Linked DNA regions of Homo sapiens. The protein of the gene in region 1 purifies or fractionates together with the protein of each later gene. This does not show direct contact. Each region holds a gene or a part of one and is shown in the gene's direction. Other genes may lie near its edges. The genes, in order: FIGLA and SEPTIN14.

What was found.
Region 2: the proteins of FIGLA (region 1) and SEPTIN14 purify together in Homo sapiens (affinity purification with mass spectrometry; one large-scale study listed by BioGRID and IntAct). This does not show direct contact.

The regions. Positions count from the first base shown.
Region 1 is NC_000002.12:70,783,821-70,787,643, reverse strand, and holds part of FIGLA (factor in the germline alpha), read left to right. Parts: intron 1-2,004; coding exon 2,005-2,229; intron 2,230-3,823. UniProt on the Homo sapiens protein: Germline specific transcription factor implicated in postnatal oocyte-specific gene expression.
Region 2 is NC_000007.14:55,803,469-55,807,291, reverse strand, and holds part of SEPTIN14 (septin-14), read left to right. Parts: intron 1-33; coding exon 34-202; intron 203-1,901; coding exon 1,902-2,034; intron 2,035-3,823. UniProt on the Homo sapiens protein: Filament-forming cytoskeletal GTPase. Involved in the migration of cortical neurons and the formation of neuron leading processes during embryonic development.

The DNA.
Region 1 (3,823 bases):
GGTGTAAGATTTTAGAATAATGATAGCCACCATTTATTAGGCCTTTTCTATGTACGAGACACTGTGCCAAGTGATATATGTATACTTTCCACTTAAGGTTTATAACCTCTAAGCTATTTTTATGACCCTTATTTGACAGAGAAGGAAACCAAAATATAGTTAAGGCCATACAGCTCTGAAAAAGTCAGGACTGGGATTTGAACCCAGAGCTACATGAGCTTTAGAGTTGAGTCCCTGACCATCTATACTTGCCTATGGTCACTATCCAGGGCACCTAGCTCCTGACTGTTGAATCTTTGATAGGATTTCTACAGCTGGACATAGGAGGGGGCTTTCCTAAAAGCACTTTGGTTGTTTCCCTACAGTAGAATGCACATCAGACAGGACACAGGAAGGAAGAGGCATTTCTTTTCCCCAAGGAACCTCTCTTAGGAGAGACCCTCCCTAAGGCCAACTGAAGAGCTCAGCAATGGTCTGGTGATACCAGTCTCATGGGGTTTTGCAACCATTCAGCAGGAATGACACAAATGGCCCTGTAAACTGTGAAGTATCATAATGTCACCACCATTATGAGAGTGAGATAGCTCAGAAGTGTCCATTAGGCAAAGTAAAGTGTGGACTGGTTTTATGGACTTGTTCCAGGGAAAGGCAAACATTGATGGGCTGAAAATGAATCAGTCATCTGGGGAAACAAAATAGGAAGAGAGAAAAGGCCTTAGAAATGAGCCCTAAGCAACTCTGTTGGTAGGAGGAAGGAATCATCATTAGAATGTGGCAAGAAGGTAGAGGAACAAGATGGGGTCATAAAGTTGAGGAGGAGAGAACCTTAGGAAACTAAAGGTGAGGAGTGTGAGAGGTTACAGAGAGGCTGAAGAAGGCCAGGACTGGGGGAAGCACCATGTCTAGCACTTGAAAGGTGAAAGAGAATTGGGCTGGGCATCAACTTGGAGGAGATTGAGGGTGCATGATTGGTAAATATCTGGAATCCAAGCAGATTCAGAGGAAAGTGGCAAACTTCAAGTCCATTTAACCTAGAAGTCTGCCAGGCGCGGTGGCTCACGCCTATAATCCCAGCACTTTGGGAGGCTGAGGCAGGCAGATCATGAGGTCAGGAGATCGAGACCATCCTGGCTAACATGGTGAAACCCCATCTCTACTAAAAATACAAAAAAATTAGCCGGGCGTGGTGGCAGGCGCCGGTAGTCCCAGCTACTCAGGAGGCTGAGGCAGGAGGATGGCGTGAACCTGGGAGGCGGAGCTTGCAGTGAGCTGAGATGGCGCCACTGCACTCCAGCCTGGCAACAGAGCGAGACTCTGTCCCCCCCCAAAAAAAAGAAAACCTAGAAGTCCGAGAGTGGAAAGAAGAACCACCCCCCACCCCACTCCCTGCACCCCCTGCCAAAAAAAAAAAAAAAGGCAGAAAAGTTGTTAGATCAAGTGAAGGTCTTTCCTATGTAGAAATTTGATCATGTTTAGGAACAGAAGGAGAGATACTAGAGAGAAAAGAAACAATTATCCTAGAAATTTGGGGCAGAAATCTCCAGGTGTATGATAGTACCTTTGAATATTTTTTTCTTCTCCATTAGTCCTAGCCAGGTGACTGCTAGGAAGCTACATTCTGCGATGGCAGGAGTGAATTGTCCTGTTGGTCAAACTGGATGGTTGGGTTTTGGTATGGTCACAGTGTTTGGACATGTGTAGGTGGCTACCTTAGTTTTCTCTTGCATGTCAATTGTGTAACAGAAGTGCTTTGTTCATTGTAAAACATACCATCTGTTCCATGCCATAATATTTTTAATGCAGTTACCTATTGCATAACATTTTAAGATGATAGGAGAACAAAATACGGTCAATTGAACAATGCTTTTCTCTCCATAATGACTTAAGCATTGCCCTTATCATTTAAATGAAACCTCATCAGTTAAAACTTTGAAATATATTAGTTTAAGTCATCAAAATCTTTCTGTCATATTATACTGTTTGACAACTAAATATGGTTTCCAGAAACAAGACCCAGATGAGCAGAGCTATAGTAACAACAGTTCTGAATCACATACATCCTCGGCAAGACAGCTGTCAAGAAACATCACCCAACATATCAGCTGTGCTTTCGGCTTGAAGAATGAAGAGGAAGGGCCTTGGGCAGATGGTGGCAGTGGTGAGCCAGCACACGCTTGTCGCCACAGTGTGATGTCTACGACTGAAATTATCTCCCCAACCAGAAGTCTGGTAAAATATTCCTTCTTAAATACCCATACAGATATCAGAACCTTAAAATGTATACTTTGAGATATGAGTCATTTTTCCATGCTAAAACATGATTAAAACAAGATAATTTAATGAAAGCCTTTGGGTGGGGCAGTGGGGTTTACTAGTTTGGGAGATTATTTTGTTTCTAAATTAACTGGTAAGCGGCTCCAGGGAAGGGGAAACTCCTCCAGAACCACCCAATACAGACCTAAGCTTATCTTTTAAATGAAACTATTTAACCCCAGAACCACCCAATACAGACCTAAGTTTATCTTTTAAATGATCCTATTTAACCCCAGAACCACCCAATACAGACCTAAGTTTATCTTTTAAATGATCCTATTTAACCCATCAAAAGGTTTTCTGGACTCTATGGTCTCCAGAAAAAGAAGTAAGTAGCTTGCCATACATAAAGATGCATGTTTGGTGATACTTTTTTTTTTTTTTTGTGGTGGGGGGTGGTGCTGGTTGTAAGACAACATTTTAAATGAAATAACAAAGGAGTTTATTGTCTGTTATTACTTTGTCAACTAAAGAGACAGCTGGAAGTGGCAGCATGCTTCTCCAAGTCCAGAAGTGGACTTTTTGCCCTTGCTGTGAACTGGTATTCATAAATGAGGCCCCTGCTCTATCCTACTCTGCAACACAATTACTATTGAAATAAGAAAGGTGTATAGGAATGTGAAGTAAGCATGCTGTAACAAACATGTTGCATGGTATGATATAAGGGACAGTGGGGGCTGTGGAGTCACAGATGGTGGTTGGAGGGAGGCAGTTGAGGCGAGCAGTTGAGAGTAGGCTCTGGGAACAGACTACTGAGGTTTAAACCCTGGTTTTACCACTTGCTAGCTGTATAATCTTGCATGAGCTACTAAATGCCTCTAATCCTCAGTTTCTCCATCTGAGCAATGGGTATAATAATTGTACCTACCTTGTATATAAGATAACTAACTCCAAATGATATCATGTCAGCAAAGTATCTGGCATAATACCTGTCACGTCACTTGGATAGATACCAACTTCTCTTGACTCATGAGCAATCAACATTGATTAGTGAGCAATAATGAGCCACAGGTATTCTAGCTCTGTAGCCAGTGTTTTGAGTTTTCTCACTTGGCTCTCACCAATGTTGTGCTCTGATTTGAGGTCCTACAGGCTTCCTGCTGGCTGGTGGGGGCAGGGCAGGGGTGGGGAGAGAGGTGGTGGGCGGCCTTGGCTTCCATTTCTGATTAGATTAATTGTGTTCTAGGATTCATTTGTGCATATGCTCAGTGTAGATTTTCATATTCTGACCACTTGAGATATAAGATTTCGCTGGCCAGTCAACCCATAGGAGACAGAATTCCTGTTGCTACTACATGAGCTGACATGGAATGACTAAAAGCAACAACAACAAAAGAGTGGGGCCAGGCGCAGTGGCTCACAATTGTCATCCCAGCACTTTGGGAGGCCGAGGTGGGCGGATCACCTGAGGTCAGGAGTTCGAGACCAGCCTGGCCAACATGGTGAAACGCCATTGCTACTAAAAATCAGGCGTGGTGGCGGGCACCTGTAGTCCCAGTTACTCACTCAA
Region 2 (3,823 bases), on another chromosome or scaffold:
AATGTTGTTGATTCATTATTATTTTTTTACTAGTGGAAAATGAAAATCACTGTGACTTCGTTAAGCTCCGAGATATGCTTCTTTGTACCAATATGGAAAATCTAAAAGAAAAAACCCACACTCAGCACTATGAATGTTATAGGTACCAAAAACTGCAGAAAATGGGCTTTACAGATGTGGGTCCAAACAACCAGCCAGTTAGGTGAGTAAAAATATTGCTAGCACAACCAAATGGATAATTTAGGAGTCCCTACAAACACAAGGTATGATAATTTGGATATGAGAATAATTATACTTCTCCCATCTTGAGCCATCATAAAGAAAACACCTGAATGTTAGGTGTTTTTATGATCTTTTGACGAAGGTAGAGATAGTAGGAACAATATAATGCGAGATCTCATTTTTATGCTGAAATATGTGTATTCAATATGTATATATGCTGAAATGTATATTGATGAAAAAACCCAGTATTTTGTTCCATTTTTTGTATTTATATGAAATGTATCTGTATTATGTGAAAGAAAGGATAGGCCGGGCGCTGTGGCTCATGCCTGTAATCCCAGCACTTTGGGAGGCTGAGGCGGGCGGATCATCTAAGGTCAGGTATTTGAGAGCAGCCTGGCCAACATGGTAAAACCCTGTGTCTACTAAAAATACAAAAAGTAGCCGGGCATGGTGGCACACGCCTGTATCCCAGCCACTTGGGAGGCTGAGGCAGGAGAATCGCTTGAACCCTGGAGGCGGAGGTTGCAGTGAGCTGAGATCACCTCACTGCACTTCCAGCGTGGCGGACTGAGCAAGACTCCATCTTAAAAAAAAAAAGAAAAAAAAAGAAAGGATAAAGAAAAAGATGGAAAAATATTAGCAAAGTTTGACAAAAGACATTAAGAAGAGTTTGATGGAGGAACCAGCTGAAAAGCAGTAGTGCAGCATCCTGGAAGTTAAATGAGAAAAGTTTGAGAGCAGGTGTTTGCTCTAACTTGAAGAATAGAGCCGGGTGCAGTGGCTCCCGCCTGTAATCCCAGCACTTTGGGAAACCGAGACAGGCAGATTACCTGAGGTCAGGAGTTTAAGATCAGCCTGGCCAACATGGTAAAGCTCCGTCCCTACTAAAAATACAAAAAAAATTAGCTGGGCGTGGTGGCGGGTGCCCGTAATCCCAGTTAACTCGGGAGGCTGAGGCAGGAGAATCGCTTGAACCTGGGCAGCAGAGATTGCAGTGAGCTGAGATCGTGCCACTGCACTCCAGTCTGGGCGACAAAGAGAGACTCTGTCTCAAAAAAAAAAGAAGAATAGGACTTGTGTTGCAAAAACATGGCACTGTAGTGTATATAATCTAGTTATATCATTCATTGTTCTTTGTAGACACCCAAAATTTAACTATCTTAAATGAATGATGATATTTTGAAAGACTTTTTGCTTTATTTTAGAGGATTTTTGAAAATCGTCTCATACATTAGAGGTTTCCCTGAATGTTATTGTCAAAAGATATGAAAATGTATGATATCCTGGAAAGTGGTGGGGATAAGAATTCACTCATATAAGTGTTGGAAAATTCTAGTATTCTTTACATATACTGTCTATATACTCTGATCTTAAGTATTGTGCCTTGGTTTTTACATCTTATGATATGGAAATTTCCATTTTGTGCTGCTAAACATGAGAGAATGTTGGTAAATTTCCTTATATAGGATGTAACATACAATATATATTTTTTACATGTTTATACTAGTGTGTTTTTATTTTTCATTTTATTTTATTTTTTTATGATGGAGTCTTACTCTGTCTCCCAGGCTGACGTGCAGTGGCACGATTTTGATTCTCTGCAAACTCCGCCTCCTGGGTTCAAGCGATCCTCCTACCTCATTTTAATATAAGACTAAGAAAACATTTCTCTTTAGTTTTCAAGAAATCTTTGAAGCCAAAAGACAAGAGTTCTATGATCAATGTCAGAGGGAAGAAGAAGAGTTGAAACAGAGATTTATGCAGCGAGTCAAGGAGAAAGAAGCAACATTTAAAGAAGCTGAAAAAGAGGTTAGTACTGACAGTTTGATATAATTTGTATTAATTTTTAGGTGCCCTATTAATTTGGGGGTTTTAATCTCAAGAGTTTACTTGATGTTTTTGGAGGATACTTGCTATTTTTCAAAAAGTAGCTTTTTACCATGTAGACTTGAATATAGCCTTTACAAAATTATAGTCTGTAGTGTTTTTTCTAGAGAACTTAATTTTCCCATTTAAATAACCCTGAAGATAATTTTATAAAAATTATGTTTTATTTATAATTTAAATTTTCATGCATAAAGTTTAATTTGTGACAAACCCAAGCTATTTACTCTGAGAAGAGTCTTGTACTGTCTAATGCTATTAATGCACTAGAAAATTGTCTTCACTTTTATAAAAAGCAAATGTTGACTAATGCTGGCCTTGATTAATGAGAAAATTTTAAGTTGGTAAATTATGTTATTCCATGCCATTTCTAATAAAATGGGGAAAAAAGCTATTAATATCGTTTTAATTATTTGCCACAAATACGTTTTTGGTGAAGACATATTTTTGAAACCATAATTTCTTTCTCTCAAGTGTAGGTGGCTTTAGTTTAAGAACATTTAGTTTAATTAGGTAAATTGGAACATAAACTTCCTTTTTCATAAGAACAGAATAGTAGTAATTAGGTGCTATAGGCCAGATGTCTCATTCAAAGACAGTTGAATTATAAGTAATAAAAATTCCAGCCGGGTGCGGTGGCTCACACCTATAATCCCAGCACTTTGGGAGATGGAGGCGGGCGGATCCCCTAAAGCCAGGAGTTCAAGACCAGCCTGGCCAACGTGGTGAAACCCCGTCTCAACTAAAAATATAAAAATTAGCTGGGCATGGTGCTGCATGCCTATAATTCCAGCTACTCGGGAGGCTGAGGTAGGAGAATCGCTTGAACCCAGTAGGTGGAGGTTGCAGTGAGCCGAGATGGTGCCACTGCCTCCAGCCTGGGCGAGAGTGAGACTCCGTCTCAAAAAAAAAAAACAAAAAAAACCAAACCATTAGCTTAGGTATAAAGGAAAAAGTTTGGATGTATACAAGGGTACGTCATGACATCTAAGGACAAGAGACATAGCTGGATCTCATGAAGACTTTTTTTTTTTTTTTTTTTTTTTTTAGACAGAGTCTTGCTCTGTTACCCAGGTTGGAGTGCAGTGGCGCGATCTGGGCTCACCGCAAGCTCCGCCTCCTGGGTTCACGCCATTCTCCTGCCCCAGCCTCCCGAGTAGCTGGGTCTACAGGCGCTCACCACCGTGCCCAACTAAATTTTTTTTTTTTTTTTTGTATTTTTAGTAGAGATGGGGTTTCACCGTGTTAGCCAGGATGATCTCGATCTCCTGACCTCGTGATCCGCCTGCCTCGGCCTCCCAAAGTGCTGGGATTACAGACATGAGCCATCGCGCCTGGCCTCATGAAGACTTAAACCAAAACTAGGAAGTGACCAGAAACCGAAGCAACCATTTAAATTTTCTCTTTCTCTCCCACCTCACTTCCCTTAGTTATGAACCTTATTCCTGTACGTCTGCTTCTTTTTTCTTTCTCTCTGGAGATTAGTTTCTTTTCCATATCTCAACTATGTGTTCTCTTAGGGTTGATTACATGTCTTGATTATTGTCAATTAATGCTGCAATAAACATGAAAGTGTAGATATCTCTTTGACATACTGATTTTATTTCCTTTGAACACATAACTATTAGTGGGGTTGCTGAACCATATGGTTATTCTATTTTCAGTTGCTTAATGAATACCCATATTTTTCATAATAGCTGTACTGATTTACTTT